3 separate regions of the Homo sapiens genome follow, and all the other regions are linked to region 3. Evidence: fine-mapped expression QTL. A gene starts in region 3. Each other region holds a variant in brackets. All regions are shown on one strand. Distances are between the middles of the regions. Region 1 overlaps LOC105377306 (a long non-coding RNA gene). Region 2 has its middle 250 kb from the start of RASGEF1B. Region 3 holds the start of RASGEF1B (RasGEF domain family member 1B).

Region 1 (10,346 bases), 34 kb before region 3:
TGTGCCTAGAATAGGTATAAATATGAACATCTTCAGGCCCCTCTTTACAGACTTTGTTTACTATTCAGTATTGGATATATGGAAAAATAAGCAGAAGAATAGTGAATTAGCTTGTGTTGCATGTCACTAAGGTTGCAAATTTATGAAGTGAATCAGACTTCAGATCCAATACTTGCCAAATACTGCTTGGACAGTTATATTTTGAGCAATTATTTGCCGAAGATATGTCTGCAGAATACACGGATACCTTGGGAAGAGGTATTGATCATTTCAACTCCCCCCAGCCAATTCTGAACAAATGACTGTACATGTTTTTAAGGGAACTGAGCATGTTCCCTAAGGATGCCCCGTAGTTTTTCTGGTCCAGTGTTTCTCTATTCCTGTTATCACAGTCATATTCCAGCTGAGGTAATTCCATCTTAATGTGCCTGTTACCTATCAAAATGGATGTCACAGTACATTTCCCCCACAGGAGACCGCTTCTGTGGGTAAACGAGGCACATATATCTGGATTGTCACACACTCTAGAAATCCCCTGGGTCTTACAAATGCTTCAAATTTATAGCTGCTAGTTTTAGTGTATGTGGGTGTGTGGGTGACTGTCAATCAAACATGGAGCTTAACATTTACTGTGACTTTTTATATTGAAATACAATTTCTTTTCTTCCTCTGTGGTAAGCCCAGAAATGGAGTGGAACAAGTTAATTAAAATATTGGTGGCTTAATACTTTTCAGCCACTGATAGTTTCCAGTCAGCTCTTCTCTGGAACATTCTTTGTCATTGTGAAGCTAATCTGGAGCCAATAGGAAGATTTTTCTAAACATGAAATAATTTCTTCTAAGGTCTTTCTGCCCTCTCTCTTAAAATCTGAAGGAAACAATCTCATGGACTATTCATTAATGCTTTGACCCCTCTGTGCTACCAATAGAATCCGGGGCAGGGTGGGGACATCACATTTTATGAGCACATACACAGAAAACAGCTTTATCAGCAGGGATCAATTTGTCTTTTCCTATGCATTACTATTGAACTCTCTGCCCATCAGCAATCAGCTGACCCCTGAGGAATAAATACCAACAAACTCCTTCATAGGTTTTAAAGTTTATTTTGGGTCCTTGATGTCCTAGAAATAGAAATATACAAGAAGAAATTTATTTGTATGTTGGCTTCTTTGCTCTTGGTGGAATTATTTGAAGAATTATTTTTAAACTAAAATATTTTATTATACAATGAATGAAAATGTAATCACGAAATGTTCCTTTTCCAGAAGTTGCAAACTGGTAGCCCATAGGCCACATCATGCCTGCCCAGATACTTTTGTGGTCTGCCTGTTTTTGTTTTTTTTTTCTTTTTTCTTTTTTTTTTTTAGACAGGGTTTCGTTCTGTCACCCGGGCTGGAGTGCAGTGGTGTGGTCACAGCTCGACTTCGTGGGCACAAGTGAGCCTCCTACCTCAGCCTCGCCAGCAGCTGGGACTACGGGCATGCACAACCACATCCAGCTATTTTTTTTTTCTTTTTACAGATAGGGTCTTGCTATGTTACCCAGGGTGTTCTTGAACTCCTGGCCTCAACTGATTATCCCACCTCAGCCTCCCAAAGCCCTGGGATTACAGGAGAGAGCCACCATGCTCAGTTACATGTTTTTTATTAATTGAATTAGGAACCACTGTATGTGACCTGGAAGTTTCACATAGAAATATGGATTTGGAGATTCTTTTTTAAAAAAAATCTCCCAGTATGGGGTCTGTACTATCCCCAGAGAGGAGCTAGCAGCAACTGTCCCCTCTCTATGAGGCAAGGCTTCCAGTAGCCACCTTTCAAAGGAGAGATGGGATCCCCTTTTATCAGGCATAAATCCTTTAGTTGCCGTCTTTGGGTAGATACGGGCCCTCCAGTTTGCCACAGTTGTTTCCTCCCAATACAAACCACAAATTCTTCTGTAGGCTTACTAGGCTTACCAGAGATACTTGATTTTGTAATCCCTGTTCTTGATGAGAAACTGTGACAAATGCTAATTTGGATTTCTTAAGTAACTTCCTTCCCAAGAAAACAAATTGTTCATTGAGCACCTATCTGTGCCAGGCACTTTTCTTGCCCTGTCTCACGTGATCACCATGACAACTCCAGTAGGTATTTTATAGTCAAGAGAAGTGGAGCTTGAGAGACTCAATAACTTGCCTGGGACTACACAGCTCATAAGTGGGTGAAATAAATTGTATTTCTATTGCCTGGTTCCGAAGCCCAGACTCTTCCACTAAACCTCTCAAACACTTCAGATGGCTCTACACAAAATCTTATTCATTTTACCACATCCCTGTTGAGAGGAAGGAATTGAGTAGGGAGGTCTAAGAGGGAATGGGAAATTTTGATTTTTTTCCCCCTCATTTGCTACATCATCATTTTCTTCTTAGACCTGTAATAACATCATCTACTTTGGTTTTTGAAATTACTCATGACAAGCTGTGAAACCTAACTTACGTGTGGCTTCTGTAGGCTACTACTAGAAAATTGGCATCCACATGGCTGTCATTCCTTCACTGGCTGTATAGTCTCCTCTTCAATTGCTGCACAGCTGTATGGAGCTCAATTTGTAATAAAAGTGGTTTAGTGCAAACCATACATACATAATGGTCTTTGATTTCCCCCTCGGCTTTGAAAATCTCTCTTAATTATCTGCCTGTAGGCTTGGAATTTCTTTGCCAAGTCTATCTTCATTTACTGAAGTGTCTCCAGAGTACTACTTTTAGAGGAATTTCTTCAGAAGTGGAAACTGGCCCTAAGCCCTCATGTTGAAGAAGGTCAGTGTAGCAATAACATTGACTTAAAACTTACTGCAGTAAGGAAGTCCCTTTAAAAAGGCACTCTGTGCCCACTCTGTTAAAAAGAAAAAAAAGTTGTTAAAATAGAAGTGAGGAAGGCAAAGAAGAACAGTATAAAGCCACAGCTGGGAGAAGTAACAATTTAGTTGAGCTGATTCCCTGGTGTGGGGAGGAGGCCTTTCTTCTGTTCTGTGTGCCTCTGAATTCTGCTTACCCCAACACACTTGAACAACTTTGCTGATACCTGCATTAATAATTTCTGTCATCTATTCAGTTATTCATTCAAGCCTTCTCTGAACACCTATGTAAAATGATACTTCTCTATTCTTTTCTATCCCCTTGCCAGGCTTTATTCTCCTCTTGTCACACGTATCACCAGTCCATTATATTGTATGTTCAATTGTTTTATTTTTGTTTCTCTCTGTTACCTAAATGTAGGTCTCTGAGGACAAGGACCTGGCCTGTTTCATTTATTGCTATACCCCTAGCACCTTGTGCATGGCACATAGGAGAAACTCAATAAATATAAGTTATTGAACTTCCACTCTGTATTTAGGATCTAAAAATGAATAAGACATGATTCCCACCTTCCAGGCATTCACAGACTTTTTAGAGACAGATGTAAACATAAATGCCTCTTGCAGTATGAGAACTTGACTGGTATGCATGACTTCAGCAGAAGTGATTTAACTGATTAACTGCTGCACTAGGTGAGTGTGATGATTAATTTTCTGCATTACCTTGAATGGGGCATGGTTTCCCAGATTTCTGGCCAAGCATTATTCTGGATGGGTCTGTGAGTGTTTGGGGATGAGATTAACATTTGAACTGATTGATAGACTGAGGGAATCAGATTGCCCTCCCTGTTGTGGGTGGGCCTCATTTAATCAGTTGAAGGCCTGACTAGAACAAAAGGGCTGACCCTCCCAGGAGTGGGAGGGAACTCCTCTCACCTACTGCCTTGAGCTGGAACATTAGTCCCTTCTGACTTTCAGAATTGGACTGAAACACAAGCTCCTTTTGGGTCTTGAGCCTGGTGGCTTTTGGACCGGAACTACACATTGGCCCTCCTGGGTCTCCAGCTTACTGAATACAGATCTAGGGAGTTTTCAGCTTTTGTAATTGCATGATCCAATTCCTTATAGTGTGTGTATGTGTGTGTGTGTGTGTGTGTGTGTGTGTGTGTCTATATGTATGTCTATATGTATATCCTGTAGACTGATAGGCTATATCTACATATCTGCACATATAGATATATCTATATATCTATAGGCTATATCTACATATACAGATATATCATATTGCTTCTGTTTCTCTGAACCCTGGCTAATACAGTGGGCCAGGCATACAGACTTAAAAGCATCATACCCTGCTTCTGTAAGAGACAGATGCCAACTGGAATTAGAAGTGCAAGTGGTTTACTAAGAGAAGAGCCTGTGAAAGATAAAGGACAAAGTGGAGGGAGCTGGAGGAGGTGGAGGAAGCCTGCAGCCCATGATGCAGCTCTGAGACCTATGAAAGGAGAAACAGAAGAAAGGATTGAGTAGAAAGTGCTTCAGACCAAAGTGCAGTTCTGAGAGTTGTGGCCAGCCTGATGGAGAGTCCCTGAACCAAAGGCACCCATTTGAGGAATCCCCCTTTAGGCAGGAATGGCCCAGCTCTAGCACCCACCACTGTACTCAGTCATTGACTGGGGCAGCCTGGGGAAGTGTGACCTGGAAGTGAACGCTGCAGTCAATCCAAGGTACAACAGCTGAAGACTATGAATCAACTATGCCCCACACAATAGGCCCTCCCACAGGGAGATTCGAACAGGGCACCTTCATGACCCATTCTTCTGGCATGCCCTTCTGAGGCTGGGGGTGGGCTTTCACAAGTTCTGACCATCATAGAATCTCTATGTGGTAAAGATAATATGTTCTTAAAGTGGGGTAGGGGCTCCCTAGGAACCTGTATTGAAGCTTATGTTCTTATTTAGATTGTATATTTACCAAAGCCAATCTTGGAGCCATCTCTGCTCACATGCAAGAGTGGGCCAGGCTGAGGAAGGATGATGGTGGGAATCTAGGAAAAGGAGGGGCCTGGAAGCTGGACTCTTTGTCTCTTCTGCTGAAGCCAGAGACTTGGGAACAGCAGGCACCTGTCATCCCAAGGTGCTGGGATGGGAGGAGGACCTGGTTTTTGAAACCAATGATACATCAATCCATGGGCAAACTTTGGTACCTACACTCTATTTGGCAGACCTCTGGCTGATCTCAGCCCTGCCTTGGATACATTGCAACAGAACTGGGAGAAATATGGCAGAGATCAGCTCTCCTTAGTTGAAACAGAAAATCCCCGAGGATGGGCAGGAAAAGATACTAGATACTAGACTACCTGTTCTTCTGATAAATCATATAATGTTTGCTTGTTAAATGATTATAAATCTAGTTCTTTCTTTTATTCCTCCTTTAGGATCAAAATTTATTACCAATTCAGAAGATTAGTGTGGGCTGGGCTCCCCTGTAAACATTTCCCTCTTTATTATATTTCCCCTACTCTGCAAATTAAGAGAACTGCCACTTAAAGCCTGTAAAAAACAACCCTGTCAGTTAACTCTGATGGAGTCATAGTGATGAAATATTAGCTAGTGCTAGACAGGAGTCTGGAGATCCTTTATTATTACATATAGAAAGAAATGAGTGATTACCCAAGGTCACCTGGCCGACTAACTGCAGAAACAGGCTGGGACCCAGGGCTTTGGTTCTCAGGCCAGAGCTCTGCTCACCATGGCAGCCTTGCTTTCTTCTCTGATTGTACCCGGCTTTTTGTTTGGTTGCTTGGTTGGTTTTGGTACTTTTATGCTAGAGAATACTTGGTTAGCCAAAGATTTTTTCATAACCCCTGTAAAGCATGAATTTCACTTTTTTAGGGAACCACTTTTTCCTCTGGCTAAGAGTTTTGCGCCCCAACTTAATGGGAAAAAAAACAAACATTGTCTTGCTGCAGGAGCCTATAAAAATGCCATTTCTTTGAAAACTGGCAATGGCTAAAGCCTCACATAAACCTCTGAAGGAAGAAAAGGACGGAGAAGCTAAGGTGCACAAATCACCCAGCTTTGTGACTGGTAGAGCTAACACTTGTTTCCTGATGTGGACGGTTCCAACAGCTGCTTGTCTGCAGACTCAGAAACTTCTTTGAACTAGAAGGAA[C/G]TTTGACAATTATCTGTGAGGAAACAGAAAGAACATGTCCCGTGAGCGCCGTCACAGGGCAGAGTCAGAACCGGAACCCACGCCTTCCAACTCTTAGTCAGATGATTGTCTGTGACAGAATATTTGGAAGACTCCAAGGATGAGGCTTTTAATTTCAGACAAGTAAGTGCAAATTAGGAAGTGTATCAAAAGTCAGTGCATCGACTATGATAATCATTGTTTTGCCCTTATTATGTTCCAGGAACTGTTCTAAGGGCTTTACATGGATTGAGTACTTCCTTACACTGGGCTATTAGTCAGCTTTCACCAGGCTGTGTTACAGCAATAACCCCCAAATCTTAGTAGTTTACAATAACAGAGGTTGTAGGTGGTTGTGATGGGTGAGACTCCTCCAAATGGCTTCTTCAGTGCAGGATCAGGGTGAATGAGAAGACCCTATTTGAGATATGTCATTCTTGTGGCAGACAGAAAAGGGCGCAATGGCCCAGAAAGCCTTTGCTCAGTCAGGGCATATGTCATTTCCACTCAAATGCCACTGATCACGGCAAGTCACATGGCCAAGCCTGATGTCAATGAAAGGAACACAGCAAGTCACATGACAGTAGCCAGGGATAATGCAGCAGACTAGCAGACTAAATATTTCTGTTCCCTCAGAATTCATAGGTTAAAATCCTAATCCCTAATGTGATAGTATTAGAAGGTGGGACCTTTGGGAGTTGATCAGGTCATGGGGGTGGGGGCTTCGTGAATGGGATTAGTGCTCTTATTAAAGAGACCCAAGAGATCTCTCTCATCCTCTCTCTGCCATGAGGACACAAGGAGAAGTCATCCTGTCTCTGCCATATGAGGACACAAGGACAGAAGAGGGCCCTCGCCAGAACCCAAGTATGCTGGCATCATGATCTCAGACTTCCAGCTTCCAGAAGTTTAAAAAATAAATGTTTGTTTTTTAAGCCATCCAGTCTATGGCAATTTGCTATAGCAGCCAGAACAGCAGCTAAGACAGATGTGTGTCTGTGTGTGTGTGTGTGTGTCTCTGTGTGTGTGTCTGTGTGTGTGTGTGTCTGTGTGTGTCTGTGTGTGTCAGTGTGTGTGTGCGTCTGCGTGTGTGTCTGTGTGTGTGTCTGTGTGTGTCTGTGTGTGTCTGTGTCTGTGTGTTTGTGTCTGTGTGTGTGTCTGTGTGTCTGTGTCTGTGTGTGTCTGTGTGTGTGTGTCTGTGTGTGTGTCTGTGTGTGTGTGTGTCTGTGTGTGTGTCTGTGTGGGTGTGTGTCTGTGTCTGTCTGTGTGTGTGTGTCTGTGTGTGCCTGTGTGTGTCTTTTGTGTGTGTGTGTGTCTGTGTGTGTCTGTGTGTGTGTGTTTTAACATGAAAGGTAGCAAAATATTTGAAACAATATTGCAATCTACCACAATAAGAATCACCACTTAACATTTATAAGCTCATCTGATCTTCACAACAAAACCTATTAGGTACGTAAAACTATCATCTGTTATCTAAAGCTTATACAACAAATGAGAGACAGAGCTAGTATCTGAACCCAAGCAGTCAGCCTGAAGACTGATCCTTAATCAGCAGGCCATGCTGCTTTTCAAGATTTGCTGCCTCTCATCTGCTAACCCTCTGTCAGACACAGTTCCCTTCTCCCCTACTCCCTCCGCCAACTGGTAAAGTCAGCCAAATGCCTAATGCCGAGACTTCAGCCATCTGTTATTTTTACCTACATTGCCACATTCATTTATTTATTCAAAAATATATATTGAGCATCTGTGGACATGACGTGATACAAAGCAGTAGGCAGAGAGTGGGTACAAAGATACATCAGAAATAGATGATGGGTTCTGTTCCCATGAACCTAGTGAAAATTTATATAACTAAAATAATAAATCATAAACACATATGAACCTACAATTAAATTGCTATGGGAAAGCCAGAAGAATAAGCAAATTATTCTGGTGAAGGAGCTCTAGAAAAAGATGGGAGAGAGACATTTAGTTGTCTTTGAAGGATAGATGGAGTATGAAGGTGGGCAGATGGAAGGGAAGGAGAGGAATGCATGAATATAGGGCGTGAGGACATGTGGTGGGGCCACAGAACCATTAGTTCCAGGCCACATTCAGGAGGGCCCACAGAAAAGTTTATACCCTGACTCAGTAATGCATACATTGGCAATGCTAAAGACGTCCTATGTCACCCTATTTTAAACTATTCCAGTACTGGATCACACTGCCTGTGATGACTAGGAATGAGTATTTTTATAGACCCTGTAATTATCTTTGAATAGCACAATTATGTGACATTGTGTTTTGTAGACACTAAAAGCATTAATTTGATAAATGTTACCTTTGAAAATATATCAAATTTTTCAAATCTTGTTTTGGCTTTTCTTCATTTCTAAAAAATATACCAGCAGCTTCAAAAAAAGAAAGCAGATTTCATGTCTTTCAATGTCTTTACAGTAAAACACGGTGGGAAGAAAATACAATAATTTTGGCTGCAAAAAAATCATTCAGTTCATACTTCAACAAATATTTAATGAGCACTTAGTATAAACAGGGCCTTATTCTAGGTGTTGGGGATGTTGCAGTGAAGAAAGGGTACACATTTCTGTCGTCATGGCATCTGCATTCTGCTGAGTATATAAAAGAAGTAGTGAGAACTGAAAAGCTAAGTTGTGCATTTGTGGAGGAACCAGACCTTGACTGCCAGGCTAACTAGTAGGCAGCAGACAGTGGGGAGTCATTGAAAGTTTTCTGCAGAGACATGATGAAAGCTAGCCTTTAGGGGGTTAATCGGGCAGCACTACGGTAGGTGGAGGTGAACTAGAAAAAGGACTTGGGTGGAGGAAGGGGCATTCAGAAAGCAGTTTATGCCATGCAGAAGCAGTTCACGGTGTCCAGCAGATGCAAAACTGGTCCTGAAGTCAGGTAGGCAGAGTGAATGCAAAGGTTGGACAAGATGTAAAAGATCCCCATGAGATAGAACAGCAGGGGAAGAATTCCTCATTGTGTGAATGTGAAACCAAGGGAAAAAAGAAAATCAAAGTTCCTGTGTACTCATCTCTGGTAAGGGCAAGGTGGTTTAGCCCAGAGTGGGCTTTGGCATCAGATGACCCTAGCTTCAAAGTCTGGTCTGACATTTAACAGCTGTGAAACTTTGGGCAGGTTGGTCAATCTCTCTGAGCTTCAGTTACCCCATCTGTAAAAGTAAAAAATAATTCCTAACTGCAGGATTAAATAAGATAATAAGTGTAAATCACAGAACACAGACAGCTCCCAGTAGCTTTTTACTGTGATTATTATAGTTACATGGAAGATGAACTGCCTTGGGGGATGCATTTGAAGTAACTGCTGGACATCCAGAGGGAGATGTTGAGCATTTTCTGTGCTGAACACTTGACAAACCTCATCTCAGTTTGTCACGACAAGCCTTTGAGGAAGATATGGTTGTCATTACTATTTTACAAATGAAGAGAATGAGATTTAGTTAACTAAACTTAGCCCAGCCTAAGCAGCTAGTGAGGTGCAGAACTCAGGTCCCCCGACTCCAAAGCCCATACTCTTAAAACATTCAAGGTTCGGAGCAAACCCAGAAGAGCCACTTGATTTAGTTTAAAAACTCTCACTTTCCCTGGCCACCCATCCTCAAACGCCTCCCACAGGCACCACTTGGCTGGCCCTGATTCTCCTGCGTGCTTGTGAAGGAATGAGTTCAGTCTGAAGGGAGCCACCCTGCCCATCTCAGCAGCCTCTTTTGGTAGATTAGAACAGATTTTGCTGTTTCTGCTCAGATACTTATTAGTTAGCATAATCACGGTCATAGACAGTCGGCTCTTTTGGCCCTGGTCAGGTAGTCATTGTCCTTCCAGATTTGCTATGTCCTATCTCTGGTAATATTCACCAAGCTTCCTGGGGCTGGGAGTTAACATGATTGAAACACACCAACCCAGGAGTCAAGACCCAGGTTCATTTTAGGCCTTTATCACTTACTACCTGTTCGATTTGGGGAAAGTTTCTTGTCCTTTTTGAGCTTCTTTCTCTTCTTCATTTGCAAAGCAGAGATAATGACCCCAGGTTCAAACCAATCAACAAGGAAATGAAGACAATCTGCAGAAGGAATCACTGTGCAACTAGCAACCGTTTTCTGTGACACCCCCTAGTCCTAACAGTGCCCAGATGGAGGAATGAGAAAGATGTGGGCTCTTAGCCCCAGAAGATGTCAGGAGATTCATGAGCCACAGAATATGCCCAAAGGAAACATCTTCCTGACCCTTTCATCAGACTACCTTGACCTTCTGTTAGACCTATTTTAATTCTTCTTTTGTTTCCCAAGTGCAGTC
Region 2 (10,346 bases), 250 kb before region 3:
TCTGTTATCTGGGCTAGAGTGGAGTGGTGTGATCACAACTCACGACAACCTTGACTTACTGGTTTCAAGCAGGGCTCCCACCTCAGCCTCCAAGTATCTGGGACTACAGGCATGCACCACCATGCCTGGCTAATTTTTGTATTTTTTTTCTAGACACAAAGTTTGAAACCAAGCTGGTTTCAAACTCCTGGGTTCAAGTGATCTGCCTGACTTGATATCCCAAAGTGCTGTTACTACAGGCATGAGTCATTGCACCCGGTCGATCATATGTTTTTTGTCCTTTATTCTATTGATATGATGTGTCACGTTGATTGATCTGCTTATGTTGAACCATCCTTGCATCCTTGGGATGAATCCCACTTGATCATGATGAATGATGTTTTCACTGTGTTGCTCAATTTAGTTTGCTAGTATTTTGTTGAGGATGTTTGCATCTATGTTCATCAGGGATATTGACCTCTAGTTTTCTTTTATTGTTGTGCTTTTGTCTGGTTTTGGTATTAAGGTAATACCAACCTTGTAGAATGAGTTTGGATAGATTTCCCTCCTCCTCGATTTTTTTTTGAATAGTTTGAGTAGGATTGGTGTAAGTAATTCTTTAAATGTTTGTTAGAATTCAGTGGTGAAGCCATAAAATCCTGGGCTTTACTTTGATGGGAGACTTTTTTTATTATTGCTTGTATCTCATTACTTGTTATTTGTCTATTCAGGTTTTGGATTTCTTTATGGTTCAATCTTGGTAGGTTGTATGTGTCTAGGAATTTATCCATTTCTTATAGACATTCCCATGTATTGGCATATAGTTTCTCATAATAGTCTGTAATGATACTTCAAATTTCTGTGGTATCAGTTATAATGTCTTTCTTTTCATTTCGATTTTATTTACTTGGGTCTGCTCTCTTTTTTTCGTAGTTAATCTTGCTAAAGGTTTGTCAAGTTTGCTTATGTTTTCAAAAAAACAATTTTTCATTTTGTGGGTGTTTAGTATTTTTTTAGTCTCAATTTTATTTATTTTTACTCTGATCTTTATTTCTTTATTTCTAATGATTTTGAATTTGGTTTGCTCTTGCTTTTCTAGTTCTTCATTAAGGTGCATTATTAGGTTGTTTATTTAAAGCTTTTCTCCCTTTTTGATGTAGATGTTTATTGCTATAAGCTTCCCTCTTACCTCTGCTTTTGCTATATCCCATAGATTTTGGTACATTGTGTTTTCATTTTTCATTTGATTCAAAAAATTTTTTAAATTTTCTTTTTAATTTCTTCATTGACCTAATGGTTGTTCAGGATCATATTATTTGATTTCCATGTGTTTATACAGTTTCCAAAGTTCCACTTGTTATTGATTTCTAGTTTGGTTTTATCATATTTAGAAAACATACTTGGTATGATTTTATTTGTTTTGAATTTTTTTAGACTCGTTTTGTGGCTTAACATATGATCTATCCTTGAGAATGTTCAATGTACCAATGAGAAGAATGAATATTTTGTAGCTATTGGATGAAATATTCTGTAAATAGCTATTAGGTTCATTTGGTCCATAGTGTAGATAAAGTTCAGCGTTTCTTTGTTGATTTTCTGTATATATGATTATCCAATGCTGAAAGTTGGGTGTTGAAATTCTCAGCTAATTTTGCATTGGGGTATATGCCTCTCTTTAGCTTTAATAATATTTGCTTTGTATATCTGAGTGCTCCAGCATTTGACTTATATATAATTAGAACTGTTATATCTTCTTGCCGAATTGGCCCCTTTATCATTTAATAATGACCTTGTCTCTTTTTACAGTTTTGGTCTGGAAATATATTTTATGTGATATAAATGTAGAGCTACTTTTGCTGTTTTCTGGTTTACATTTGTATGAAATATTTTTTCCCACCTTTTATTTTCAGTCTATGCATGTCTTTATAGGTGGAGTGATTTTCTTGTAGGCAACATATGGTTGAGTCCTATTTTTATCCATTCAGCCACTCTGTCTTTGGATGGGAAAATATAGTTCATTTACATTCAATGTTATCATTGAAGGTAAGGACTTCACTATTGCCATTTTCTTTTCTGGTTGTTTTGTTGGTCCTCTTCCTTTCTTTCTTCCTTCTTGTCTTCCTTTGTGTAACAGTGATTTTCTCTGGTAGTATTTTTTTAATTTCTTGCTTTTTATTTTTTGTGTATCTACCATAGGTTTAAGTCTTGTGGTTGCCACAAGGCTTACAAATAACATCTTATAACCAATTATTTTAAGCTGATGACAACTTAACTCTGCTTACAAACAAGCAAAGAGAAAACTGAAACACTCCACATTTTAATTCCTATCCTGCTTTTAGACTTTTTCTTGTCTCTTTTTATGTCTTTTATGTTGTCTATCACTTAAAAAGCAGTCATAGTTGTTATTTTTGGTAGGTTTATCTTTTACTCTTCTTGCTGAAGTGCTTTCTTTTATGGATAATTGTTCAATTTGGTGTTCCTGTGGGGAGACAATTGCTAGAGAGTATTTTTCAGCCATCTTGCTCCACCCCTACATATTATTTTATATAATAAATATAATAATATAATCGCTTTATATTTTTGCCTCATCTGTTTGATCACAGCCTCCTTGGGGGCAAGGAAAGTTCAGGTTCTAAGTCTAGTGTTTTTTTTTTTTCTATATTACATTTACCCTACCATTTCACATATGTCATGGACCTTGGATTTTAAAACACAGAATGTCCTTCTGTTATTGATAATAATTACCAGCTTTATTATATAGTAAAGGTTACTTAATGTGTCCTTCGTCTCTATGAAAGGGAGTATTTATAATTTTTTTAATGAGATAACCACCTCATTGCATTTTAATTGCCAGGGATCCTCTGTTTGTAAAAGTCAACATCAAAAGAAGATATCTTATAGTTATAATTGCTCCTTGGCAGAAAGGTTACCACGGATGCTGGAGAACATTCATGGTTAATTTTGTAAAACCATGGCTAATGGGACAAATCACTCAGCCATGGAGACTGTGCAAGCTGAAAGAATATAAAGAGCTGCAAAGGGAGAAGCAGGTTATGGGCTCTGTCCCTGGGCTTCCGAGAGGTTCATGTCAAAGAGAAAGCAGGCAGATGTGACTCACTCAGTCAGCTGTGGGTGGTGGTGGCCTCAGCTGTCACAGCTGGGCTGACATCAGCAACATGTGATTGATATCAGTGCAAAGGCAGCTCCCAGCCAGCCAGGAGTGTGTGGCAGGAACAACCAGGGCTTGAATCCTGTGAACAACCAGGGCTTGAAAGTCTTCTGTTGGGGACAACAAATAGGAGCAGTGAACCCTCTCTTGCCTCCCAAAGTCTGACTAGGCTCAGGGACTTGGAGAGTTCATCTCAGAGGTGTTGTGACTTGTCCTAGATGACACAGAACATTAGAGGTCAGGCTGGGACTAGCAACTGGATCATCAAACTCCCAGGCCAATGCTGTCTTCATAGACCGCCCAGAAAAGGAAGACATGAGCAGATTTTTAAGAAGTTGTAAAATCAGGTTAAAATCAACCTGACACTTGAACAGCTTGCTTCTTCAAAACAAAAAAATGGTCTTTCAGGTATTCAGTAACTGCAGTGATTTGACACAGCAGCTTATCATTATTTCCTAGAGGTGATTCTTGTAGTTTAACCCAGAGAAATATTTCAGTAGTGCAGTCATCATGTATTTGCTGATCTTTATTGATGTATAAGAAACAACAGCAGTGATACATGCAAAAAGGAGATTTAATTGGGGAATCTTTTCCCATGTAAGCAACACTGTGCCATTCAAACAAGAAGCAGTAGTGCATAATTAAATCTATAATCATTGAAAAAATCATTTTAAAAGATAATAAACAGCTTGAATTTGGTAAACACTTCACTTATTCAAAATACTTTGATGAATTCTATCTCATTTGATCTTCACAGCTACTTCTGTATAACTTAGGAGAAAGTAGTAGTCACCTATTTTGTAGATGAAGAATCTGAAACCAGAGCACCTTGGCAATTTGCCCACAATTACACAGCGGTTACTACTAGAGCCAGGACTAGAATCTTGATTCTTTATTTAGTGCTTTTGTGTAATAAAGTTCACAATGTCCTATCTGAAATTTTGAAATACAAACAATAGCCTAAGTTTATTTATTTTTTTCTTTTCTAACTTATTTGATGGTAAAACTACCTGTTCTGAATGACTTTTGGTAACAAAACCTGTTTTGAGATGACAGGAAGCTCTGTGTTGTTCTCTTTAGGGAGAAGATTCATGTTTCAGAGCAGAAATGTTAATGCGTTCAGTTACAGGATGCTGCCCCAGACCAGTGTGTTCTGTTTGTTATATGAACCATATTGTCTTTCTAAAGTCCAAAAATTTTCTGAATTCAAAAGCGCATCTGAACAGAAGAGCTTTGGATAATAATTGAAGTAGACTGCCTGTGTCTTCTTCTAGTGAGGAAATGAGATGTTTACATTAATTAGATATTCTGGTTTATAGTCACCATAGGTACAATATGTGTATTGCTAATATTGAACAAATGAGACTGTGATGAAATCCCCTTAATATTGACTCAGCAGTTGTTGTGAGGGTTAAATAAAATAATTCAGGCAAATCAATTGGCATAGTGTCTGGTTCATAGGACATATTTCATAACTAGAGTGTTAACTGCTATCTTTCTTAATAAACTTTGTATCCTCGTATCACAGATGAGGAAATGGTAATAGGCAGAGAGGTTAAGTAACGTGCCCGAGGCCACACAGCTAGTAAATGACACCACCAGAACTGGACACCCAGGCTACCTCTCACACTCAAAGCATATGTATAACCAGTAGGGTATATATTTTCTTGGATCTTTCAAGAGGCTGTAGAAATCCTTCCAGATCATCATTATGAAAATTAATTACCAAATCATTGGACTGTAGCATGTGGAAGTGCTGTTTAATAGCCTGCTGGTTAGGCCAGATTTTGCTGGCTAAGGAGAGAGAGGGGGAGAGGGAGAGAGGGGAAAAGGAAGAGGAAGGGAGAAAGAGACAGAGAAGGATTAAACTAATAGAAAATACCTTACAAATGAAAAAATTGGAATGAGCATAGAGCAATTGGGAAATCTCTATTCTAGAGAATTATTACCAGTTCAGTCACTCCCTTGGATGGATTGAATGAAGTCTTTCTGGGAATTAGATCAAAGAGAAAGCACTCTCAGGGCTTTTCCCAAAATTCTGTGGATCAGGTTGATGAAACTTATGGTTGGGGGAAAATAATTTTGTGTTTAGATAATGAGAATTTCCTCCACTCCCACCCATTCCTGGCTTTTCTCCCTGTGGCTTTTTTGCCTACTTGGTTTCCTTACTCTGAACCTAGGAACTATCTTTTTTTAACCATGCTTTGGAGGGGAGTGCCTGCCCTTTGAAGGTGGGGGAGGCAGGTGGGCCCAGAGAGGAGAGGGCAAGCACAGAAGGCAGCAACACAGGAGATGAGAGGAGAGCAACGTTTGCCTCAAAAATGGATTCTGATCCCGAAGCAGCTTTCCTGCGACTACCCCCGTCCCAGA[C/T]GGTGAGAGGAGAACTTGAGAGCCTGGTGCTTGTGGTCTGTCAGAACAGGCTGGCAAGAAAGTGAGCCCCTGGGAAGCTAAGCCTGACATTAAAAGGACTCGGTCTATCCTGTTGGCAGCTGCTGCAGCTCACCCTTGTGCGGTGTGGCCTCAGCGCATGTCTGGCTTTATTTGCTATTTGGGGCGCGGCACTTGAAAGGTGCCCCCTCCCCCAGACTCCTTGACATTTGTCCAGAGATTAATTGAGCTAATCCCCTTCTTGGAAGAATAGGTTGGGAAGTCTGTGTTCAGGGAGGGTAGGGAGGCAGGCTGGGACTGAAGAGGCATGCATTAATAAGGGTGCTAGGGCTTGCTGGACCCTTTGAAGGAAGAAAAGCAAATTTCTCTGCTGTTCCTGGACGAGGCTGACAGGTGGGCAGGGAGACTGCAGTTTCTGTGTTTCGCCTGGCTTTGCCAGAAGGTCTGTGCGCACCAGCAATAACGACTCTTGACAGCACCAGCTGTCACTCAGGGATGAATTACTCCCAGGACACCTTGGCCTGCCATTCTCATCTCTTGTACTAAGGGCAGAAGGTGAGAGCCCCAAGACAGGCTATCCTGACAGGGGAGGCACATATTACTTGAATACTTGTCTGGGATGGTTAGAAAAAGTGCATTTAAATTTTGTTTTGAATTAGACATTAAAATTAAACATCATTTATTATTTTGTATTTTTGATGGAGGGACGAAGACAGGGGAACATGAACATTGTTTTCTTATGCTGTGTGCAACTGTCCATATTTTGGGAGGGGACACAAAGCTTTTCACCTTACCGTACAATAATCATAGCTAGAATTGGCAGGGTACTATCATTTCTGCCTGTAATCCCAGCATTTTGGGAGGCCAACGTGGGAGGATCATTAGAAGCCAGGAGTTCAAAACCAGCCTGGGCAACATAGGGTGTGTCTCTACAAAAAATAAAATAAACTTAGCCAGATGTGGTGGCATGTACTTATAGTCCTAGATACTTGGGAGGCTAAGGTGGGAGGATCACTTAAGCCCAGAAGTTTGAGGCTGCAGTGAGCAGAGATTGTGCTACTACACTCTGGCCTGGGTGACAGAGTAAGACCTTGTCTCTAAAAATAGTAGTAACAACAATAGCTAGCATTTATTGAGTTGTTGTGTTCTAAGCATTTTATATGTATTAATTCTTCTTTCTTTTTAAACTATACTGTAAGTTCTGGGATACATGTGCAGAACATGCAGGTTTGTCACATAGGTATACTCGTGCCATGGTGGTGTGCTGCACCCATCAACCTGTCATTTACATTAGGTATTTATCCTAATGCTATCCCTCCCCTAGCCCCCCACCCCTCAACAGGCCCCAGTGCGTGATGTTTCCCTCCCTGTGTCCATGTGTTCTCATTGTTCAACTCCCACTTATGAGTGAGAAGATGCGGTGTTTGGTTTTCTGTTCTCATGTTACTTTGCTTAGAATGATGATTTCCAGCTTCATCCGTGTTCCTGCAAAGCACATGAACTCATTCTTTTTTATGGCTGCTTAGTATTCCATGGTGTATATGTGCCACATTTTCTTTATCCAGTCTATAATTGATGGGCATTTGGGTTGGTTCCAAGTCTTTGCTATTGTGAATGGTGCTGCAATAAACATACGTGTGTGTGTGTGTTTTTATAGTAGAATGATTTATAATCCTTTGGGTATATACCCAGTAATGGGATTGCTGGGTCAAATGGTATTTCTGGTTCTAGATCCTCGAGAAATTGCCACATTGTCTTCCACAATGGTTGAACTAATTTACATTCTCACCAACAGTATAAAAGCATTCCTATTTCTCCACATCCTCTCCAGCATCTGTTGTTTCCTGACTTTTTAATGATCGCCATTCTAACTGGCGTGAGATGGTATCTTATTGTGGTTTTGATTTGCATTTCTCTAATGACCAGTGATGATGAATTTTTTTCATATGTTTCTTGGCTGCATAAATGTCTTCTTTTGAGAAATGTCTGTTCATATCCTTTGCCCACTTTTTGATGGTTTTTTGTTTGTTTGTTTTTGTTGTTGTTTTTGTTTTGAGAGAAGTCTCGCTCTTGTCCCCTGGGCTTGAGTGCAATGGCTCGATCTCAGCTCATTGCAACCTCCACCTCCCGGGTTCAAATGATTCTCCTGCCTCTACCTCCCAAGTAGCTGGGATTAAGGCACCTGCCACCATGCCCAGCTAATTTTTGTATTTTTTAGTAGAGACAGGGTTTCACCATATTGGCCAGGCTGGTCTCAAACTCCTGACCTCAGGTGATCTGCCCGCCTCAGCCTCCCAAAGTGCTGGAATTATAGGCGTGAGCCACTGTTCCTCGACTGTTTGTTTGTTTTTTTCTTGTAAATTTGTTTAAGTTCCTTGTAGATTCTGGGTATTAGCCCTTTGTCCGATGGATAAATTGCAGAAATTTTCTCCCATTCTGTAGGTTGCCTGTTCACTCTGATGATAGTTTCTTTTGCTGTCCAGAAGCTCCTAGTTTAATTAGATCCCATTTGTCAATTTTGGGTTTTGTTGCCATTGCTTTTGGTGTTTTAGTCATGAACTCTTTGTCCATGCCTATGTCCTAGGTTTTCTTCCAGGGTTTTTATGGTGTTAGGTCTTACATTTAAGTATTTAATCCGTCTTGAGTTGCTTTTTGTATAAGGTGTAAGGAAGGGGTCCACTTTCAGTTTTCTGCATATGGCCAGCCAGTATTCCCAACACCATTTATTAAATAGGGAATCATTTCCCCATTGCTTGTTTTTGTCAGATTTGTTAAAGATTAGATGGTTGTAGATGTGTAGCATTATTTCTGAGGCCTCTATACTGTACCATTGGTCTATATATCTGTTTGGGTACCAGTACCATGGTGTTTTTGTTACTATAGCCTTGTAGTGTAGCTTGAAGTCAGGTATCATGATGCCTCCAGCTCTGTTCTTTTTGCTTAGGATTTTCTTGGCTATACGGGCTCTTTTTTTGGTTTCATATGAAATTTAAAGTAGTTTTTTCTAATTCTGTGAAAAAAGTCAGTCGTATCTTGATGGGGATAGCATTGAATCTAAAAATTACTTTGGGCAGTATGGCCATTTTCACGATATTGATTCTTCCTATCCGTGAGCATGGAATGTTTTTCCATTTGTTTCTGTCCTCTCTTATTTCCTTGAGCAGTGGTTTGTAGTTCTCCTTGAAGAGGTCCTTCACATCCCTTGTAAGTTGTATTCCTAGATATTTTATTCTCTTTTTAGCAATTGTGAGTGGGAGTTCACTCATGATTTGGCTCTCTGTTTGTCTGTTATTGGTGTATAGGAATGCTTGTGATTTTTGCACATTGATTTTGTATTCTGAGACTTTGCTGAAGTTGCTTATCAGCTTAAGGAGTTTTGGGGCTGAGATGATGGGGTTTTTAAATATACAATCATGTCATCTGCAAGCAGAGACAATGTGACTTCCTCTCTTCCCATTTGAATACCCTTTATTTCTTTCTCTTGCCTGATTTCCCTAGCCAGAACTTCCAATACTATGTTGAATAGGAGTGGTGAGAGAGGGCATCCTTGTCTTGTGCTGGTTTTTGAAGGGAATGCTTCCAGCTTTTGCCCATTCAGTATGATATTGGTTGTGGGTCTGACATAAATATCTCTTATTATTTTGAGATATGTTCCATCAATACCTAGTTTATTGAGAGTGTTTAGCATGAAAGGGTGTTGAATTTTATCAAAGGCCTTTTCTGCATCCATTAAGATAATCATGTGGTTTTTGTCATTGGTTCTGTTTATGTGATGGATTATGTTTATTGATTTGCATATGTTGACCCAGCCCTGCATCCCAGGGATGAAGCCGATTTGATTGTGGTGAATAAGCTTTTTGATGTGCTGCTGGATTCAGTTTGCCAGTATTTTCTTGAGGATTTTCGCATCGATGTTCAACAGGGATATTGGCCTGAAATTTTCTTTTTTTGTTGTGTCTCTGACAGGTTTTGGTATCAGAATGATGCTGGCCTCATAAAATGAGTTAGGGAGGAGTCCTTCTTTTGCTATTGTTGGGAATAGTTTCAGAAGGAATGATACCAGTTCCTCTTTGTACTTCTGGTCGAATTTGGCTGTGAATCTGTCTTGTCCTGGGTGTTTTTTTTTTTTTTGGTTGGTAGGCTATTAATTACTGCCTCAATTTCAGAACTTGTTATTGGTCTGTTCAGTGGTTCAACTTCTTCCTGATTTAGTCGTGGGAGGGTGTATGTGTCCAGGAATCCATTTGTTCTAGATTTTCTAGTTTATTTGCATAGAGGTGCTTATAATATTCTCTGATGGTACTTTGTATTTCTGTGGGATCAGTGGTGATCTCTTCTTTATCATTTTTTATTATGTCTATTTGATTCTTCTCTCTTTTCTTTATTAGTCTGGCTAGTGGTCTGTTTTGTTAATCTTTTCAAAAAACCAGCTCCTGGATTCATTGGTTTTTTGAAGGGTTTTCTGTGTCTGTATCTCCTTCAGTTCTTCTCTGATCTTATTTATTCCTTGTCTTCTACTAGTTTTTGAATTTGTTTGCTCTTGCTTCTCTAGTTCTTTTAATTGTGATATTAGAGTGTCGATTTTTAGATCTTTCCTGCTTTCTCCTGTGGACATTTATTGCTACAAATGTCCGTCTATACACTGCTTTAGCTGTGTTCCAGAGTTTTTGGTGCATTGTGTCTTTGTTCTCATTGGTTTCAAATAACATTGATTTCTGCCTTAATTTTGTTATTTACTCAGTAGTCATTCAGGAGCTGGTTGTTCAGTTTTCATGTAGTTGTGCAGTTTTGAGTGAGTTTCTTCATCTTG
Region 3 (10,085 bases):
CTGGCTAGCGGTTTATCTATTTTGTTGATCTTTTCAAAAAACCAGCTCCTGATTCATTGATTTTTTGAAGGGTTTTTTATGTCTCTATCTCCTTCAGTTTTGTTCTGATCTTAATTATTCCTTGTCTTCTGCTAGCTTTTGAATTTGTTTGCTGTTGCGTCTCTAGTTCTTTTAATTTTGATGTTAAGGTGTCAATTTTAGATCTTTCCTGCTTTCTCTTGTGGGCATTTACTGCTATAAATTTCCCTCTACACACTGCTTTAAGTGGGTCCCAGAGATTCCGGTACATTGTGTCTTCGTTCTCATTGGTTTTCTAATAACTTATTTATTTCTGCCTTCATTTCATTATTTACCCAGTAGTCATTCAGGAGCAGGTTGTTCAGTTTCCATGTAGTTGTGCAGTTTTGAGTGAGTTTCTTAATCCTGAGTTCTAATTTGATTGCACTGTGGTCTGAGAGACTGTTATGATTTCCGTTCTTTTGGATTTGCTGAGGAGTGTTTTACTTCCAATCATGTGGTCAATACTAGAATAAGTGCGATGAGGTGCTGAGAAGAATGTATATTCTGTTGATTCGGGGTGGAGAGTTCTATAAATTCTATTAGGTCCACTTGGTCCAAGCTGAGTTCAAGTCCTGAATATCCTTGTTAATTTTCTGTCTGGTTGATCTTTCTAATATTGACAGTGGGGTGTTAAAGTCTCCCACTATTATTGTGTGGGAGTCTAAGTCTCTTTGTAGGTCTCTAAGAACTTGCTTTATGAATCTGGGTGCTCCTGTATTGGGTGCATATATATTTAGAATAGTCAGTTCTTCTCCCTGCATTGATCCGTTTACCAATACGTTATGCCCTTCTTTGTCTCTTTTGATCTTTGTTGGTATAAAGTCTGTTTTATCAGAGATTAGGATTGCAACTCCTGCTTTTTCTTTTTGTTTTCCATTTGCTTGATAGATCTTCCTCCATCCCTTTATTTTGAGCCTGTGTGTGTCTCTGCACGTGAGATGGGTCTCCTGAATACAGTACCCTGTTGGGTCTTGACTCCTTTTCCAATTTGCCAGTCTGTGTCTTTTAATCAGGGCATGTAGCCTGTTTACATTTAAGGTTAATATTGTTATGTGTGAATTTGATCCTGTCATTATGATGCTGGCTGGTTGTTTTGCCCTTTAGTTGTTGCAGTTTCTTCACAGTATTGGTGTTCTTTACAATTTGGTATGTTTTTGCAGTGGCTGGTACTGGTTGTTCCTTTCCATGTTTAGTGCTTCCTTCAGGAGCTCTTGTAAGGCAGGCCTGGAGTGACAAAATCTCTCAGCATTTGCTTGTCTATAGAGGATTTTATTTCTCCTTCGCTTATGAAGCTTAGTTTGGCTGGATGTGAAATTCTGGGTTGAAAATTATTTTCTTTAAGAATGTTGAGGCTGGGCACGGTGGCTCACGCCTGTAATCCCAGCACTCTGGGAGGCTGAGGTGGGTGGATCACTGGAGGTCAGGAGTTCGAGACCAGCCTGGCCAACATAGTGAAACCCCATCTTTACTAAAAATACAAAAAAAAATTAGCTGGGTGTGGTGGCACAGGCCTATAATCCCAGCTACCTGGGAGGCTGAGGCAGGAGAATTGCTTGAACCTGGGAGGTGGAGGCTGCAGTGAGCTGAGATCATGCCACTGCACTCCAGCCTGGGTGACAAAGCGAGACTCCATCTAAAAAAAAAAAATGTTGAATATTGGTCCCCACTCTCTTCTGGCTTGTAGGGTTTCTGCAGAGAGATCTGCTGTTAGTCTGATGGGCTTCCCTTTGTGGGTAACCCGACCTTTCTCTCTGGTTGCCCTTAACATTTTTTCCTTTATTTCAACCTTGGTGAATCTGATAAGTATGTGTCTTGGGGTTGCTCTTCTCGAGGAGTATCTTTGTGGTGTCTCTGTATTTCCTGAATTTGAATGTTGGCCTGCCTTGCTAGGTTGAGGAAGTTCTCCTGGATAATATCCTGCAGAGTGTTTTCCAACTTGATTCCATTCTCCTAGTCACTTTCAGGTACACCAATCAAACGTAGATTTGGTCTTTTCACATAGTCCCATATTTCTTGGAGGCTTTGTGTGTTCTTTTTATTCTTTTTTCTCTAATCTTGTCTTCTCTCTTTATTTCATTAAGTTGATCTCCAGTCTCTGATATCCTTTCTTCTACTTGATGGATTTGGCTATTGATACTTGTGTATGCTTCACAAAGTTCTCATCCTGTGTTTTTCAGCTCTGTCACATCATTTATGTTTTTCTCTACACTGGTTATTCTAGTTAGCAATTCATCTAACCTTTTCTCCAGGTTCTTGGCTTTCTTGCACTGGGTCAGACCATGCTCCTTTAGCACAGAGGAGTTTATTATCCACTTTCTGAAGCCTACTTCTGTCAATTCGTCAAATTCATTCTCCATTCAGTTTTGTTCCCTTGCTGGTGAGGAGCTGTGATCCTTTGGATGAGAAGAGGTGTTCTGGATTTGGAATTTTCAGCCTTTTTTGCACTGGTTTTTCCTCATCTTTGTGGATTTATCTACCTTTGGTCCTTGACGTCGGTGATGTTCGGATGGGGTTTTTCAGTGGACGTGCTATTCCTGGTTTTTAGTTTTCCTTCTGACACGCCCCTCTGCTGCTGGTTTGCTGGAGTTTGCTGGAGGTCCACTCCCGACCCTGTTTACCTGGATATCACAGTGGAGGCTGCAGAACAGCAAAGACTGATCTTTCCTCTGGAAGCTTTGTCCCAGAGGGGCACCTGCCAGATGCCAGCCAGAGCTCTCCTGTAGGAGGTGTCTGTCAGCCCCTACTGGGAGGTGTCCCCCAGTCAGGATACACGAGGGTCAGGGACCCTCTTGAGGAGGCAGTCTGACCCTTAGCAGAGCTTGAACGCTGTGCTGGGAGATCTGCTGTTCTCTTCAGAGCTGTCAGGCAGACGTTTAAGACTACTGAAGCTGCGCCCACAACCGCCCCTTTCCCCAGGTGCTCTGTTCCAGGGAGGCGGGCGTTTTATCTATAAGTCCCTGACTGGGGCTGCTGCCTTTTTTCAGAGATGCCCTGCCCAGAGAAGGGAAATTTGGCAGTCTGGCCACAGCAGGCTTGCTGAGCTGCAGTAGGCTCTGCCCGGTTCCAACTTCCCAGAGGCTTTGTTTACACTGTGAGTGTAAAACTGCCTACTCAAGCCTCAACAATGGTGGATGCCCCTCCTCCCACCAAGCTCGAGTGTCCTGGGTTGATCTCAGACTGCTGCTGTGCTGGCAGTGAGAATTTCAAGCCAGTGGATCTTAGTTTGCTGGGCTCCATTGGGGTGGGACCGGCTGAGCCAGACCACTTGGCTCCCTGGCTTCAGCAACCCTTTCTAGGAGAGTGAACGGTTCTGTCTCGCTGGTGTTCCAGGCGCCACTGGGGTATGGAAAAAAAAAGAACTCCTGTAGCTAGTTCGGTGTCTGCCCAAATGGCCACCCAGTTTTGTGCTTGAAACCCAGGGCCCTGGTGGGGTAGGCACTGGAAGGAATCTCCTGGTTTGTGGGTTGCGAAAACTGGCACAAGCACAGTATCTGTGCTGGAGTTCCTCAGGCTCAGTCCCTCATGGTTTCCCTTGGGTAGAGGAGAAAATTCCCCAACCCCTTGCACTTCTCGGGTGAGGCGATGCCCCACCGTGCTTCAGCTCACTCCCCGTGGGCTGCACCCACTGTCCAACCAGTCCCAGTGAGATGAACTGGGTACCTCAGTTGGAAATGCAGAAGTCACATGCTTTCTGTGTGAATCTCGCTACGAGCTGCAGACTGGAGCTGTTCCTATTCAGCCATCTTGCCAGCAATCCCCTGCAACTCTTAATTTCTGGCTACAGGATCAGTAATGTCAAGGGTGTAAGTGACTGGCCCAATGTCATATGGCTCGTTTGTTACAGAATCGGGATGCAAAAACTGAGCTTGAAAAATCAACCAACCAGTACAACCACAACAGCAGGGCAGGGCCACCCAGCCTCTGTGTTTCACTCTGCATGGCTGGCCCACCAAGTTCCCTTGGCCTTATGGCTTCTCATTTAAACTGCAGAGAAGCTATGGTTAAGTCAAAGGCTCAAGTAGGTTAGAGTGAATTACTGAATCAGAGGAGTCCTATTTACACAAAGGAGGGAAGGAGTATCATAAAGAGGAAGAAAAGTAAAAGGAGGCATAAATGAAGAAAATGAAAGAGGAATCCGCTAAGAATAGACAAAGTGAGCGTCAAAATGACTCCACCCCAGGAAGGAGAGGGGGAGGGACCCATGGAGCAGGAGGGAAAAGGATTCCTCCCCCTCAGTAATCTTAATTATAACAGTATAGGACAGGTATGAATAGTGTTGTTTTATATATGAGAAAACTGAAGCTCAGAAAAGCTGTATCACTTACTCAAGGAAATACAGTTGGTAAGAGTCTCCTAATTCTGTAAATTTTTTCTTTTCATAGGTCTCTTTCTTCCCTTGTTTCCATCATTATTTCCCTCTGGCCTCCTTTTATGTGTACAAAGTGAAGTACGGAGGTTTTTACCTTTTTTCTGAAATAGTTATCAAATATCCCATGATGGAGTGAGTACGTGGTTACCATGACAACACAGCCCTCACTGAGGACTAGCCTCCCTGCTTTGCCTCCGGAATCATGTTTCACGGAACAGGTTCCTCTCCGTGCAACTTCTAGCAGCTGTAATTCTACATTTTGTTTGGGTGATTATTTGCTGAATGTCTGTCCTCCACTAGACTATGTAAGTTTCACAATGGCAGAGACCAGCCTACTTTGCCAAGTGTGCCCCCAGCGTTTTGCACAGTGCTTAGCACCAGGATCTATGTGTTATTTGCTAAGCAAATGTTCTGTGGTTCCTCTCCGCTCTCTTCTGAAAGTTACATGGACAGTAACCTTTAGCTCACAATTATGTTAATAAATACTGTGTAACGAGTCGGGCCGGTATTTACAGATAGTATACACGTGAATGAACACACACACACTCACGACTGCACAACAGCCCGGGGCAGGTGCACTCAAGAGGAAACGCGCACAGTCGGAGCCAGCCTGACCAACGCTGTTAAACACCGCTGCGCTGGGCTCCGCGGGCCTCTGCCGCGTGGGAGGGCACCCAGGCTGACGCGCTGCGGGAGTCTGGGGCCCACTGGGACTTGCCTGCCGGGCCGGGTGGCGGCGGCGTGGGCGGTGAGCTGCGCGGTGATTGGCCCGCGCCTGCCGGGGCGGGGCGGGGCTGGCAGCGGGAGGCAGGCGCCTGAGCCAAGGGGGGCGTGCGCGGCGGCGGCTGCCGTAGTTTCAGTATAAACAAGGAACCCGACTGGTTAGACAGATTTTGTTTTTCTTCTTCCCGCGCGCTTTAGCTCCCTGTCCTTTGGTCGCATTTGTGGGCGCGCGGCACGCAGCCGGGAGGCCGAGGACTCGGAGTTCACCTGCAGGTAGGTTGTTCCCTGGCTGGGTTGTTCTCCCGGCTGGGGGACCACAGCCCGGAGCGGGAACTCCGGACCCTACTGCGCGCTGCGCTCTCCCTGGAGATCCCTGGGCCGCGCGGGGAGCGAGCGGGGCTCAGAGACTTCACCGGCTGCCGGGTGCGCTCCGAGGCGGCGGGAGATCCCGAGGCGAGTGAGCGCGAACGCGGGCGCCAAGAGCCGAGTTACAGCCCGGGACCGGGGGAGGGCCCCTGCCCGGCCGCTGCGGGTACCTGGGACTGCCGCGGCCCCAACAGGTGCGAGGCCGAGCCGCTGGGACCCGGGCAGGGCCAGGCTTGGGTTGGGTTGGGTTGTGCCTTCCCTCTTTCTCCCTGATCCTGCAGCCAGGCCTTCTGTCTCGAGATAGGTGGTTTTTGAGGATTTGTCTTGAGTTGTAATCGCGTCCATCATTTTTTTCATCCCTTCTTTCCTTCGTGTGCATACCTAGGTTGATTCTTCCACTTCTTGACCAGTTTTGTGTGCGTGTGTGTGTAGGGGGAGCTGTTTATTTTTGTTGTCAGTGCCATGTAATCTAAAGTCTGACTCGTAGGAAGGGACAAGGGAACAGAAGTCACATACTCGCCACCGACAAGGTGATGTGCTGTCATCCTTCGGTGTTCACCTGGCAAACTTGGGAGACACTGAGTCGCCTTGCTTTTGCCAGAGCTCAGTTGAGTCGCCTCGGGTCACCTGCCTGGGGAATCTCAGATGAGCTAGAGGTATCTAGGAGCCTCGCGGGCAGTCAGCTTAAGGGAGGTTCTTTCTAAGGGAGCTGTGAAAACAACTTAAGTGCTGCACCAGGGAAAAGGGCGAGACGGGGGCTGGGGTGCGCGCGCCTTTGTGTGTGTGTATGGACGTACCATTTCAATACTGCTTGCTGTCTTGCCCCAACCAAATCGGCGCAGTTCAGGCAAAAGCAACGTAGCTTAATCCTCTGACACTGCCGAGGGTGGCACAAGTGTGGCAGATAACACAAGGAGATTGTCTAGACGGCGATTTTCTCTTCGGAATGTAGATGTGTCCATCCTCCCTGATGAATTCGGTGGATATGGTGTATATAGATGAATATGCACACAAATTTGTGTATGTGTTTGGGCCGAACGCGTCTCCAAGGAGTCCTTCGTCAGCACCATGTGACGACGGTCAGGAACTGCTGGTGTGTGTAGATCTATATTTAGCTCAGATGGTCTAATGGCCGAAGGGAGGGTCTCTGAACTGGGTGCATAAAGGGGAAGAGTCTAGGGATCAGGGTGGTGCACTCTTGAATGATGTCTGGCACAGTCACACTCAGATGGGGTGAATAATTGCCCTTTCCTCGTGAAAACAGTAGCTAGAGCTTGGCATGTGATGGCTATGCCTTAATTTAAAACATAGTTGGACCATGGCGATAAGCCTCTGCTAAGAAACAAGGAGGTTTACAGTTAAGCAGCGTATATACCTGGTTGGCCGTTTGGGTGAAAATAACTGGTCCCATGAGATTTAGAACAAATATAGAGTTGCTTTCTTTAATAAAAAGAAATAAAAATTATTTGCTGTTGAGGTTTTCATAACAGAAAAAAAGAAGGCAGCTTGTTAAACCCTATCATTAAAGGTAATTTTATTTTTTTAAGTGAGGGGCAGTGGTGGAGCTAGAGAGGAGGACCTTAGGGCACTTTTGACAGATATCAGGGTTTACAAACAGCGTTATATTATGCCTCTCAAGCAGATTTTCTGGTGAAGATGAGATCAGCCACTGATTAACAAGTTTCTTGTTGGCATTCTTCCACTGCATGTCGGGTCAATCCTTTGTTTTCTTGGAGGTGGGCAACATTTCTAACTACTAAGCATATTGGCCTTGTACTTTCCAGTTGTCTAACGAAGTGTTACATTCTTAGAATTTATTTCTCCTATGGTGCATTTTCAGTCTTGCTTCATTTTATGTGCTCCACTGGATATTTTATCTGATACTAACACATCTAATACCTGGGAATCATACTGTCTTTTGGAGAAGAGAATCACCAGAAAGCATTCCCATGTATTGTCTCCCGCTAACCCCCTACAGCTTAGCATCTAATAGATTATTTATATGTGTGTGTGTGTGTGTGTATATATACACATATATGTACATATATACATATGTATTTATATGTATAACTAAATCAAAGTATTATAATAACACATAGTTCTTATATAACATTTTATTCTTAGAACCTAAAATTAACTACTAGTTAATAGAGTACAATAGACTATATAAAAACAATTCAATACACCTTTCTAAGGAAAAAGACATGGTAAGAAAATTGAAGGGGAGGAGCTGGGATCCCTAGTATGACTCAGGAGTGTTGGGATCAGCTTTGTCAATATCCGCAGAGTACCTGGAAGAATTGGACTTGGGAGGAACATTGGGATAGCCCCAGGAGAGCACCTCCTTGGAAAGGAGATGGGTGAATGGAATGTCTTTTTCTTTGCTTGGGAGAAGAATCTAGAATCCTTGAAGCAGGGATTGGGAAACTTGATTCTGATGCCACACATAATAAATGAAAAAGCTGTGAAAACATTTTGTGACTTCTTAAAGAGGCCAATTGCACTGTTAAAAATGCTGTTTAAGATTTATGGGATTTTTATTAGTAGTAGTTGAATTCAGGTATTGCCAGCCCACCCCCCTCACTTTTTCAGACCTATAGTTGTCCTTTTTGATTCTCCAGTTAAAACTACAAAAAAGATCCATGCAACCTTTGCTTATCCTAAAGTGACAGATGTTATAGCCTAGTGCTGTGGCATATTTCTGCCTTGGAAATAAGGAGACTTGGGTTCTGGTTGATCTGGAGCCCTAATCAGTGATTTATTTTTTCTCTATGCCTGCAGTGTCTATAAAACGACTGTGGGGAGTTGAACAGAATGATTTATGAGTTTCTTTAGGTCTGTCATAACTGCTTTATTTTGTTGTACTATCGCTTCATGCATTTACACCCTGTCTTAGAGGTGGACTAATGAAGGGACAAGTGATTTGCAGTTAGGTGTTCACCTACTTTCTGGGTACATGGAAATGAAGAGAGGAGAGTGAAATTTCTTTTTTATTTATGAATTCATGTAGAAATTTAATATTAAACTGCTTTTTGCTTTGTTTTTCTTTAGGTATGAATATTAAAAATGATTATCAAAAAGATTGGTGTCAGATTATTTTTTGGCCTATTAAATCAATATTACTATCCACTAAATTTTTAAATTTGTCTTCAACAATCATTTTTTCTTAGGTTTATATTTATTATTTCATTTCAGGATATGCCTATGTCTGGAAATCATTCAGTTGATTCAAACTTTATTAGGAAACCCTGCTTAGAAAATTAGTTTAACCCAGAGAAAGTACAAATTAGCCTGGACTACCAATATCTTTCTATTGATCTAAAAGAGAAAAATGGGAAGGGATGAATATAGTTTTTCAAAAACTCACAGCTGGAAAATTATCCCAGTAACCATGTTATATACTAAAATATAAATAGAAAACTCTACTTTTTAATAAACATCCTCATTAGGTATCAGATCATTTTCCTGAGATGAATTAGGTGTAGAAAAATAAAACCTTTCATTAAAGAATGTTCTCCACATGCTATTATCTAATTTGGGTTGAGATCTACCTTGTATAAATGATGATTCAGCTACTCATATCTGTGCTGTTCAGTATGGTAGCCACTAGTCATATGGGAATATTTAAACTTAAGTTTATTTAAATTAAACAAAATTTAAAATTTAGTTTTTCAGTTGCAATAAGCCACATTTTAAGTGCTAAGTAAGTCACTTGTGGCTAGTGGCTGCTGTATTGGATTGTGCAAAAGAAAAACATTTTCAGTATCCCAGAAAGTTCTTTTTGACAGCACTCAATTAGGTAATGATGATTTTGATTATCCAGAAGATCATTTTTATTCTTCCAGGAAAATGAAATATTTAATTCTCATTATAGATGAGCACCTACAATGTAAGGCATTATGACCAAATGGCATTATTAGCCAGTACGTCTTCACCTGTACAGTATGAGCTGTATAGTTCAATAATATGCCAAGATCACAAATACCAGTTTCTCAATATATTTTCCCCATAACTCTAGTTATCCTTTTGCTTTTCTAAACCAGCACTGTTACTGCTACAAAGTGCCAACTCTTTGAAAGACAAGGAACGAGGAGCCATCTACTGTCCGGTTTAGGAACTGCATGGAAGATGTAGCTAAAAAGTTAATGCATAAAGAATGTATGCATTACATTCTTTACATTCAATATGTCCTGGGTTCAGTTCCCACACAGTAAAGATTTATTTCATAGAAGAGTTTTAATTGACTCTCCAGGTTATGTGCCGAAATGTCATTTGTGGTTTAATAAACTGCTAACAACACATCCCCAAGACAAAAGATGACAAATCTTAGCTTTGTTTTTCTTCCAAGGAAACCAAAGATAGTAAACTATTTGAGTCAGAATCCCCTTCCTCCAACAATTAGGAATTAGTATGAAATATTTAAGCAGCATCTAAGACAAATCAAGCAGAATGGAAATTAACTTTTTGTATGGATGCTGATAAATCAGGAAATAATATCACTGTTTCATTGCGAGAGAAATAGGATCTTCCTTCCTCAAAAATACTGATTTTTTTTTCCTCCCTTAAC

Evidence for each region.
Region 1: its variant is fine-mapped to the expression of RASGEF1B in whole blood (GTEx, PIP above 0.99).
Region 2: its variant is fine-mapped to the expression of RASGEF1B in cerebellar hemisphere (GTEx, PIP above 0.99).

What each region holds. Positions count from the first base shown.
Region 1 is chr4:81,501,079-81,511,424 of GRCh38, reverse strand. It overlaps LOC105377306 (a long non-coding RNA gene), which reads right to left. Exons shown (of 3, transcript XR_938933.3): 3 at 9,988-10,113. Among named protein-coding and RNA genes, the nearest start is that of RASGEF1B, 34 kb to the right of the region's middle. RefSeq lists a silencer at 5,922-6,041. The variant C/G (reference allele first, on the strand shown) is at 6,013.
Region 2 is chr4:81,718,030-81,728,375 of GRCh38, reverse strand. No RefSeq gene overlaps it. Among named protein-coding and RNA genes, the nearest start is that of RASGEF1B, 250 kb to the right of the region's middle. The variant C/T (reference allele first, on the strand shown) is at 5,519.
Region 3 is chr4:81,467,110-81,477,194 of GRCh38, reverse strand. RASGEF1B (RasGEF domain family member 1B) reads left to right here and starts at 5,288. Exons shown (of 14, transcript NM_152545.3): 1 at 5,288-5,425. RefSeq lists a silencer at 4,947-5,356.